Linked DNA regions of Homo sapiens: region 1 is linked to region 2. Evidence: fine-mapped expression QTL. A gene starts in region 2. The other region holds a variant in brackets. All regions are shown on one strand. Distances are from middle to middle.

What was found. PIP is the estimated chance that this variant, and not a neighbour inherited with it, causes the effect. A credible set is the group of variants that fine-mapping cannot tell apart.
Region 1: its variant is the best candidate, but not a certain one, in a credible set for the expression of SNRNP27 in whole blood (INTERVAL, PIP 0.69).

Annotation. Positions count from the first base shown.
Region 1 is chr2:69,847,328-69,852,712 of GRCh38, forward strand. GMCL1 (germ cell-less 1, spermatogenesis associated) reads left to right here. Exons shown (of 14, transcript NM_178439.5): 7 at 216-300; 8 at 2,325-2,415. Among named protein-coding and RNA genes, the nearest start is that of GMCL1, 20 kb to the left of the region's middle. The variant T/C (reference allele first, on the strand shown) is at 2,974.
Region 2 is chr2:69,891,033-69,896,417 of GRCh38, forward strand. SNRNP27 (small nuclear ribonucleoprotein U4/U6.U5 subunit 27) reads left to right here and starts at 2,924. Exons shown (of 6, transcript NM_006857.3): 1 at 2,924-2,986; 2 at 4,062-4,182. The coding sequence starts at 2,953. RefSeq lists enhancers at 2,549-3,484, 3,227-3,286, 3,485-4,419.

The DNA of each region.
Region 1 (5,385 bases), 44 kb before region 2:
ATCCTTGTATCCAGATAGATTGCACTATCTGAATTAAAAGTATCCTTGTATCCAGATAGATTGTTTTCTAAGATTCTTTGTCTTGGGCAGAAGGACTGCTGTCATTTTTAATTCCACATATTTTTTTACAAGAAAGACTTAAAGCTTTTATTTCTACCAGGATCCTTTAGCCTGTGCCTAAAGATAAGCTCACTCCCTCTATTTATCCTTTTCAGTATAAATGTCATGAAACAGCTCATTGGTTCATCTAACTTATTTGTGATGCAAGTGGAGATGGATATATACACTGCTCTAAAAAAGGTACTGACGTAATATGATGTCATATTATACAAGGATGTCACCTCAGCAATGCGTATAATGGTGAAAAACTGGAAACAGTATCCAGTAATAAAGGGATGGTTATAAATGTAGGAAAAGGAAATAGGCCGAAACCTTAAAAAGTCTTTATATTTAGGGATTTGGAATCATTAGTGATTTTAACTTTATTTTTTGTACTTTTCTATTTTAGGAATACTTTTCTGTTTTTTCCCAGACTTTTCTTTAACAAAAAATATGTTATTGCTATTTGTTTATTTACATAATCAAAAATGTTTTATATTGTTTTTAGGAACGTTTTCAAAGTTGAGCTTCAGTTAATGATGGCATTTTTACACACGCTTTTTCTAAGAAATGTTGAAATTTTTCTTTTAAAGGCCTGTTTGTGTGTCTGGCATATGTTTTACTTCATGCTTTTGAAAAGTTTCAACATTTAAAAAATCTAATTTTATTTTCACAACTCTTTGAAGACACAGATCAGCCATTATTCTTCCATGTAGATAGTGAGACTCAGAGCAGGTTTGAGGCAGAGACTGGGTCTTGGGAGTCCTAGTCCATTGCCCTCTTCCTACTGCATAATCCTGCCTTTACCCTTTTGTCCGCAAAACAGTGTTGTGAGTATTTAACACAGTTGTGAAACTTCAGACTGAGACACTTTCTAGCTTATCTCATAGGGACTCTTTGTTTGTTTGTTTCTATGGTAGAGGTGAAATTTTGTTACTGTTTTTCTTCAAGGAACTTTACTATCTGGGCTATCCAATCTTTTAAAAAATTGGTGCAGAGGTCAGGCACAGTGGCTTACGCCTGTAATCCCAGCAATTTGGGAGGCCCAGGCTGGCGGATCGCTTGAGGCCTGGAGTTCAAGATCAGCTTGGGTAACATGGCAAAAACCCCTCTCTACAAAAAATACAAAAGATTAGCTGGGTGTGGTGGTTCGTGCCTGTAGTCCCAGCTACTCAGCAGGCTGAGGTGGGAGGATCACCTGAGCCTAGGAGGTGGAGCCTGCAGTGAGTTGTCACAGTGGCATTCATTTCTGTTATTAAAACTGCTTTTTGCCAGTAATGGTAAGTACTAATACTTACAGGATGTTTACGTGCCGTGCACCATTCTAAGTATTTATGTATATTAAATATTTTAATGTCCTATGAGGTAAACATATTATCATGCTCATTTTACAAATGAAGAAATTAAGGCCCAGAGATACTAGGTAATGTGCCCGGCTCTTAAGTGCCAGGTTCAGGATTTAAAAGTTTTTGCTCTTACCTACTCTGCGTATTATCTCAGCAGCAGTAAGACAAAGAAGCTCCTTTTTCCCATGTTCATTTCTTGCTTTTATAATCTCATATAGTATTTAGTGAAATTGAGTTGTTAGTAGAATAAATTAGTATAAAATTTCTAATTAATATACATATATATTAAACCTTTACCTTTTTAATACAGTAATCTCCAGTGTGTTACCATAAATACTTCTGAAGGATTGGCTTACTCCTTAGCACACACATCCAATTTTTATCACTGGACTATGATTTTTTTTTCTTTTTTCCTGGAGACAAGGTCTCGCTCTGTCACCTAGACTAGAACATAGTGGTGCGATCATGGCTCACTGCACCTCGACCTCTAGGGCTCAAAAGGTTCTCTCACCTCAGCCTCTTGAGTAGCTGGGACTCCAGATGCATACCACTATGCCCAGCTAGTTTTTTTTCTGTGTGTAGAGATGGGGTTTGACCATGTTTCCCAGGCTGGTCTAAACCTCTCTCAAGTGATCTGCCCACCTTGGCCTCCCAAGTGCTGGGATTATAGGTGTGAGCCACAGCACCCAGCCATTGGACTATGATAATGCCATGATAAATTGAGTGCTTATAGTTGTACTTTCTTTCTTGCAATTGCTGGTAAAGTAGAAGTTAAATTTTTTAGCTATTATATTTTAAGGTGAAAGCAATTTGAAAATGTAAAATCATAAAATGATGAAATTTCATAATTGTTTTCTTATTTAATTTTTTTTAACTTAGTGGATGTTCCTTCAACTTGTGCCTTCTTGGAATGGATCTTTAAAACAGCTTTTGACAGAAACAGATGTCTGGTTTTCTAAACAGAGGAAAGGTAGGCCTGAAGTTTTTGAGAACTTGTCTTTTAAAAGGAAATTTGTTAAAATCAGGCCCCATGAGAACAGAAAATAAATAAATTAATTAATTAAATGAAATCAGGCCCTGACTTGTTTATAGACTTAATTTTAGAGCTTGGAGAAGACCTTAGCAATTATCTACTTCACCCCTCATTTACAGTGAGAAAATCAAGGCTAGATAAGAAAAATACCTTAACTATCATTATCTGAATTGTTACTCCTTGAACTGTCATCATACTCTTGATCGCCAAAAACTATTGTTTTTCCCATTTTATCACTAACAGATCTTGTTGATTGCATTTGTCTTGACCACACTGAGTTTTCTCTAACAAGCTATACCCCGTCAGGCAACCATTCTTAACATAGGGGCCATAGATAGGCTTTCATGTGTCACTGACTCCCAAAAGTGGGTACAGAATTTGATATGTGTGTGTGCTGCTGCATACATTTGTGAGAGGAGAGCTTCCATACCTTCCGTCAGATTCTTAGTGGAGACTGATCTAAAATTGGTTAAGATCAACTGCTATAAGGTCTTA[T/C]CTGTGCAAAGGAGGGCATGCAATATAAAAAAAATACATGTGTATACTAAGTTAAAATGTATGTATGTTATTTTTTACTTTGCTAAAACATATCTAGAAAAAGTATTTTTTACGGCTGTCAGGTGCAAAGAACTGGATAAATCCTTAGTTCGTGATTTTCTTAGTTTATGGCCACCTTTTTGGTTTATTTTTAATACGTTGAGCCTTTGTGACCTAATCTTTGAGTACTAGAACATCAGTAACTTCAGTCTTAACTCATGTGCTTCTTTTCTATTGTGTCCCTCTGACTTTTCCTAACCACTATCTTGAACTTCATGTTTATTCTTTTGCTTTATAAATATATATTATTGCACCATGTATATACGTCTTAACATATATTACATAGTGGTGTGCTAATAAGCTGACTCTGAAAAAATAATCCTTGATTAGTACCATTTCTTAATTCCCATGGTACAAATTTTCCCATCATGGCTGATTGATTGCAAGCTACCAACATGACATCACTGAATGAGAAAGGAGATGCACACAGCTCCTATGAGCTAGCAGCAACACGCCACTGTATAATATATCATTTTGTTTTAGTTGTTATGGAACTATGTCACATTGTGGCCTTAATTTTAATGTCCTTTATAACTAAAGAGATTGAATGACTCTTAATATGGTTATTAGCCATATGTTTCCTCTTCTGTGAGATATCTGTTCAGGTATGTTTCCTATTTTAATGTCAGATTTGTCTTTTCTTATTGATTTGTAGGCATTCTTTATGTATTCCTGATAACTAATCCTTTGTCATACATATGTTCTGCACTTCCAGTTTGTAGGTTATCTTTTTAATTTATTAAAGATGTCTTTTTGGTTGGGTGCCGTGGCTCATGCCTGTAATCCCAGCACTTTGGGAGGTCAAGGCAGGAGGCTCACTTGAGACCAGGAGTTCAAGGACAGCCTGGGCAACATATCAAGACCCTGTCCCTACAAAAAGTTTAAAGAATTAGCAGGGCAGCCTGGCACGGAGGCTGATGCCTGTACTCCCAGCACTTTGGGAGGCTGACGCCTGTACTCCCAGCGCTTTGGGAGGCTGAGGTGGGCAGATCACAAGGTCAGGAGTTGGAGACCAGCGTGGCCAACATGGTGAAACCCTGTCTCTACTAAAAATACAAAAATTAGCCGGGTATGGTGGTGGTCGCCTATAATCCCAGCTGCTAGGGAGGCTGAAGGAGGAGAATCGCTGGAAACCAGAAGGCGGAAGTTGCAGGGGGCCGAGATTGCGCCATTGCACTCCAGCCTGGGCAACGAGCAAAACTCTGTCTCAAAAAAAAAGAATTAGCAGGGCGTGGTGGCATGTACTTGTCTGTATTCCCAGCTACTGGGGGGAGGATCACCTGACCCTGGGGGTGTCAGGGCTGCAGTGAGCCATGGCCACACACCACTGCACTCCAGCCTGGACAGCAGAGTGAGACCCTGTCTCAAAAGGAAAAAAAATGTCTTTTGATGAATAGATATTCTTAGTTTTAAAATTTCATGCTCTTTATATCTTAGTTAAATACATTTTATAGAATTATTTTATGTAGTCAAATTACCTACCTCAGAGCCAGATAAATTAATTTTCTATAAAGTTCCTGAAGTAAAAATGTGTAAAGAACCATATCAGTGAAATATAACTTGATTTCCTTGAAGAACAAAAATACTAAACTTGTATCTTAAATTATACTTTTGTGTTACGTTATGGCAATTAAAGAAGGACTAGGGAAATTATAGAGGAGAAAAGTAGGGGAAAGCATTTAAATAGAAGAGAGAGAAAAGCTGAAAGAGACAAGGATGGTGAAGAAGTTAAAAAGACAAAGAGACTCAGTAGAAACAGTAGATATTAGGCAAATGTTGATAGAACCTTATGATCATTTGTGCTCCAGATAGATCCACCACAGCAATCAATCAAAAGAGAAATTGCCCTGTAGCCTAAGTGGCAGAAACTAGAGAAGCAAGCTGTGGTCCACTTCTGGATTCCCACTTGAGGCTCTCCCTCCCAGCCCCTGAGGTGTGAAAGTATACAGTTCAAGATAACTTTTCAAGGAGACATTGATTGCACAAACCAAAATGTATGTCTGATGCTCTTGTTTTTCTATGAAGATTTTACAGAGTCATTTTCAATAGTTTTAAAATTATAAATAAGATGCATACTTAGGAAATAGGATAGAAAAATCACCTGTGATCCCTCACTCGTTATATTTTGGCATATGTCTGTCTGTCTTTTTTTTTTTGAGACAGAGTCTTGCTCTGTCACCCAGGCTGGAAGTGCAGTGGTGCGATCTTGGCTCAGTGCAACCTCCACCTCCCAGATTCAAGCAATTCTCCTGCCTCAGCCTCCCGAGTAGCTGGGACTACAGGTGCATGCCACCACACCCAGCTAATATTTTG
Region 2 (5,385 bases):
TGGCATCCAGATGAATCATCTAAAATGCAAATCTGGTCAGGTCACTCCCAGCCTGAAATGCTCCAGTGGCCAGCCATAACTGTAAGGATAAAGTCCCAGGTACTTGGTAAGGTCTGCCATGGTGAACTCAAAGTGATGATAATATCAAACCTCTTTCAGTGCTTGTGTATGTCATAATGTGACACATCTCTGTGCCTTTGCTATTGCTGCTACTCCTACTCTTCGCTTGGACAATGTATTCTTTTCAGTCTCACAGCTCAACTAATTGTGTGTGAATGTGTGTGTACATAAACATTTTTATAACAGTGCCTGGCATTTAGTTAGCACAGTATGTATTAGCTATTATTATTATTCCAGGAAACCCTCTTGGACAAATTAGGCTGAATAGCCTTCTTTCATGTCACCTTAGCACACTGTGCATATTTTATATTACCACATTACAGTGAAGAGGTGTCTTCCTCTGTCTGCCTCCACAGCTAGAGTGCAAGCTCCTTGAGGCAGGGACCATGTCTTACTCATCTTTTCAATCTAGTGCCAAAGGGGTATAGTGTCCTGTGCATCGCATGCATTCAAAAAATCTTTGTGTATTCAACTGATCCCCAGCATACCTTCCAATCATTTTTAGTCCTAGAGGGGTTTCTTTTTTTTTTTTTTTTTTTTTTTTTTTTTGAGACGGAGTCTCACTCTACCGCCCAGCTGGAGTGCAGTGGCGCGATCTCGGCTCACTGCAAGCTCCACCTCCCAGGTTCACACTATTTTCCTGTCTCAGCCTCCCGAGTAGCTGGGACTACAAGCACCCGCCACCACCTCCGGCTAATTTTTTGTATTTTTAGTAGAGACGGTGTTTCACTGTAGTCTCGATCTCCTGACCTCGTGATCCGCCCGCCTCGGCCTCCCAAAGTGCTGGGATTACAGGCGTGAGCCACCGCGCCGGGTGAGGGGTTTCTTAAAAAGCATTTTCATCAGATGAGACCCCAGCCCTGAGGGGAGAAGGAGAAAGAGAAAGAGAAAGAAAGAGTATTTTCAGCCACCACCTGAGGCCACCATGTTCTTCCTCTCTTACACATCTAGTACATACCCCCTTAGGCTTCCCATAAATCCTGTCTTTCCTGTGGATAATTTCTTCAATCATTAGTGGTGTGCTTCTTCTTTCTTTTTTTTTTTTTTTGTTTGAGACGGAGTCCCACTCTGTCGCCCAGGCTGGAGTGCAGTGGCGCAGTCTCAGCTCACTGCAACCTCAACCTCCCAGGTTCAAGCAATTCTCCTGCCTCAGCCTCCCAAGTAGCTGGGATTACAAGCATGCGTCACCACGCCTGGCTATCATTAGTGGTGTGTTTCTCCAATGATGTCCCTAAATCTTCTTCCCTGGGGTCTGCACCTCCCTTGAACCTCCCCATTCTACACCTAGTGCATGCTTTGCCAGGGTAATTCCAAAGGCATCTGGGGGTTGGGGCTGTTGGTAGAAATCCTAGATGTCATGGCTGGATCTTTCCTGGAAGTTTGGGTTGGGACAGGTATTAAACAGGCCACTCTGAATGTATAAATCTAATTAAAAATTTATGTGATTGGTGGGCATTTTTTCCAACCTAATAAAGTCCCTTTCCATCCCCCAGCTCTTTGTATTTTAAAAGCCAGGTCACTAGACTTGATAATTCTAGAGAGAGCTGACTGAAAAGAGTTGGTTTGATTAGAAACAGAGGTTCAACACTTTTACACTGTTGGTGGGAATGTAAATTAGCTCAACCATTGTGGAAGACAATGTGGTGTTTCCTCAAAGACCTAAAACCAGAAATACCATTTGACCCAGCAATCCCATTACTGGGTATATACCCAAAGGAATATAAATAATTTTATTACGAAGATACTTGCACGCATATGTTCACTGCAGTACTATTCACAATAGCGAAGACATAGAATCAACCCAAATGCCCATCAATGATAGACTGGATTAAAAAAATGTGGTACGTATACACCATGGAATACTACACAGCCATAAAAAGGAACGAGATAATGTCCTTTGCAGGGACATGGATGGAACTAGAAGCCATTATCTTCAGCAAACTAACACAGAAACAGAAAACCAAACATTGCATGTTCTCACTTATAAGTAGGAGCTGAACAATGAGAACACATGGGCACAGGGAGAGGAACAACACACACTGGGGCCTGTAGGGGGAGGAGCTGGGGAGAGGGAGAGCATTGGGAAGAATAGCTTAATAGATGCAAGGCTTAATGGGTTGATAGGTGTAGCGAACCACCATGGCACACATTTACCTATGTAACAAAACTGCACATCCTGCAAATGTACCCTGGAACAAAATAAAATAAAATAAGAAATAGAGGTTTGAGTCTTTCCTGGTAAGCATATTTATGCTCTACCACAGACGGTTCAGCCTTGGGGCAAGACAGTCTTTCTCCTAATTTTTGTAGTTTTGAACATTCTAAAGTTTTTGTTGTTGTTGTTGTTGTTTTCCCTGAGGACAGAGGCAACTTTGGGGAAGTACTTTGTCGGGTAGGATGGAATCTGGGGCCTTTAGTTTTCCTTCCAAGAGCCCATAGGAGGTTTTGGGTGCCTTCTCAATGCTGGCATGAGAAAATATAAAGCAGATGGACAGTGAACTTTGGTATATTCACTCCTTATGAATGTTATGTGGAAAAGTGGAAGAACATAAGCTGTTTGTCTATGCTATGTTTACAATTGGTTTGCTCTATTTTGTGCATGTGGACAAAAATGGGGGAAAAATGAAAGCTGTGTTAGGATAATGGGTATACGGCTGAATTTTCCAGGAATTTCTATAATAACACCAAATCGCATGTTTTAATGCCCACCGTGAACAAAGAAGACCGGAACCCTCGCAACTCGTTTTGACGTTTTCTGGTCGGCGGTAAAAGCTCGGTTCCCGGCCCTCCCGGAAGTTGTTGCACAGTTGTTTCCGGGAAGCGGGACTCCAAATGGGTCGCAGTCGCAGCCGCTCTCCACGGAGGGGTGAGTCCTGTAGCAATTCGGAGGATATGGGGCTCTGTTGGAGGCCTGTCCCTTTTGTTTTATTTTGTTTTGTTTTTGGTAGCCGCGTAGCAGAGAGGCGGGCCCTTTTCCCAGGCGGAGAGCGAGGGGTGGATAAAGGAACGTAGACCTGGGCCCTGCCCTCTTCAGCCCGCCCTCTCCGGTTTGAAGGCAGTTGTTTGTCTCTGAATTAGTTTCATTAAGTCTTTGTCACCTTCATACAATAACTTTTATTACACTGTGGCCGGTGGGTTTAGAATTAGACCTCAGTTCCTTTGCTGAATTTCTGGGCGACGGTGGGCAAGTCACTACTCAGCCTTTCTGAATCGAATTCCCAGAATGAGTCATTGAGGGTAGTATTGCCAACTTTTAAAAACTGATGTGAGAATTAATGTCACATCCCATAACATACAGTATGTGATTCTGCCTGGTTCTTAAATACTTAATAAATGTTAGATTCCTGCCCAGGTCATTACAGGGAAATCGATATTAAGAATTTTGAGTCCTGGGAGCTCACTTCGTAATGTTTTCTGGCTACCAGCCCCATAAATGAGGCAGCGCGACGTAAAGAACCCTGGACTTCCATTAGGAGATCTAACTTAGACCCTCGGTTCTGCCCCTGATTCGTTTTTTTTTTAAATCAATTTATTTATTTTTAATGAGACAGAGTCTCGCTCTGTCGCCCGCCCAGGCTGGAGTGCAGTGGCCGATCTCAGCTCACTGCAACCTCCACCTCCTGGGTTCAAGCGATTCTCATGCCTCAGCCTTCCGAGTAGCTGGGATTACCCGTCCGTGCCACCACGCCTGGCTAATTTTTGTATTTTTATTAGAGACGGGGTTTCGCCGCGTTGGCCAGGCTGGTCTCGAACTCCTGACCTTGTGATCCGCCCGCCAGCCTCACAAAGTGCTGGGATTACAGGCGTGAGCCACCGCTCCCAGCCTCTTTTTACCTTTTTAATGTGACTAGTAATGGTTTGCATTATTTTTCTACTGGACGGCGCAGCTCTAGATATTTGAGGTAATTATCAGTTCTGCAATTTGTGTGCGTTTGCATTAGAACGTAGGCGTTCCCGGTCCACATCCCGGGAGAGAGAACGCAGGCGCCGAGAAAGGTCCAGGTCTCGGGAGAGAGATCGGAGAAGGAGCCGCTCGCGATCCCCGCACCGAAGACGCTCCCGGTAAGGGCAGAAAATAAGCCAAGAGTTTTATTTACCGAAAGTCCCTAAGAAACTGGTCGCAGCTCTTAACTTTGTTTTCATCGCTTATAAGGGGATTTACGGTTTCCTGAAATGGAGGAAACTTAATCCAACCTTATTCTAAAGCTAACATTCACCTTGGTTAAATGGTGCTAATAGTACTCTACATCACAAAGTTGTCTTGAAAGAGTAAGTAAGAAATAATGCATGCAAACCCCAGAGCATGGTGCTTGGCAAGAAAAAGAAATAAGTATTTTATATTTTTGTTTCTTTCTTCCGTTCCTTTCCTTTCCTTTTCTTTTCCTTTTCCTTTCTTTTCCTCTTTTTTGAGACGGAGTCTCGCTCTGTCACCCAGGCTGGAGTGCAGCGGCGCAATCTGCTCACTGCAACCTCCGCCTCCCCTGCAATCTCTGCCTCCCCTGGTTCAAGCAATTCTGCTGCTGAGCCTCCCAAGTAGCTGGGACTACAGGCACATGCCACCACACCCAGCTAATTTTTTTTGTATTTTTAGTAGAGACGGGGTTTCAACGTGTTAGCCAGGATGGTCTTGATCTCCTGACCTCGTGATCCACCCACCTCGGCCTCCCAAAGTGCTGGGATTACAGGCGTGAGCCACTGCACCCGGCCTGTTGTTTCTTTTTTATTAACTTTTTGGTGATAATGATTTATTCAAGTATGTAATCAAGAATGGATGATCTTGGAAGAACATTAGAAATGGGCTCTGAGTCTTTTTTTTGGTTTGTTTTTTTTTTTTTTGAGAGAGAGGGTCTCCCTGTGTTGCCCAGGCTGGTCTTGAATTCCTAGGCTCAAGCAATCCTCCTGCCTCTGCTTTCCAAAGTGCTGGAATTAGTAGCGTGAGCCACCAAGCCCCACCTGGCTCTGAGTCTTAATAACCATCAATTGCTGTTTAAGTCAGCTTTTTTGTATATTTGTGTGTGGTTGTTAGAAACTTTTAATTTACATTTTTCTGCCTTCCAGAAAGCTTTCTAGCCCTAGTTGTACTGAATGCAACTGATGATTAAGCAGTAAACTACATTAAAAAATTTTTTTGTTAACAATCAAGGCCTTGGCAGAACCTTTTTCCTCACTTTGCTATACGGAATGACTCGTGGTTCTGTGGAGCTCACCTCATGTATATCTGTGCTGATTGATACAAAGTTGATATGTCTGTCTGTTTCTAACATC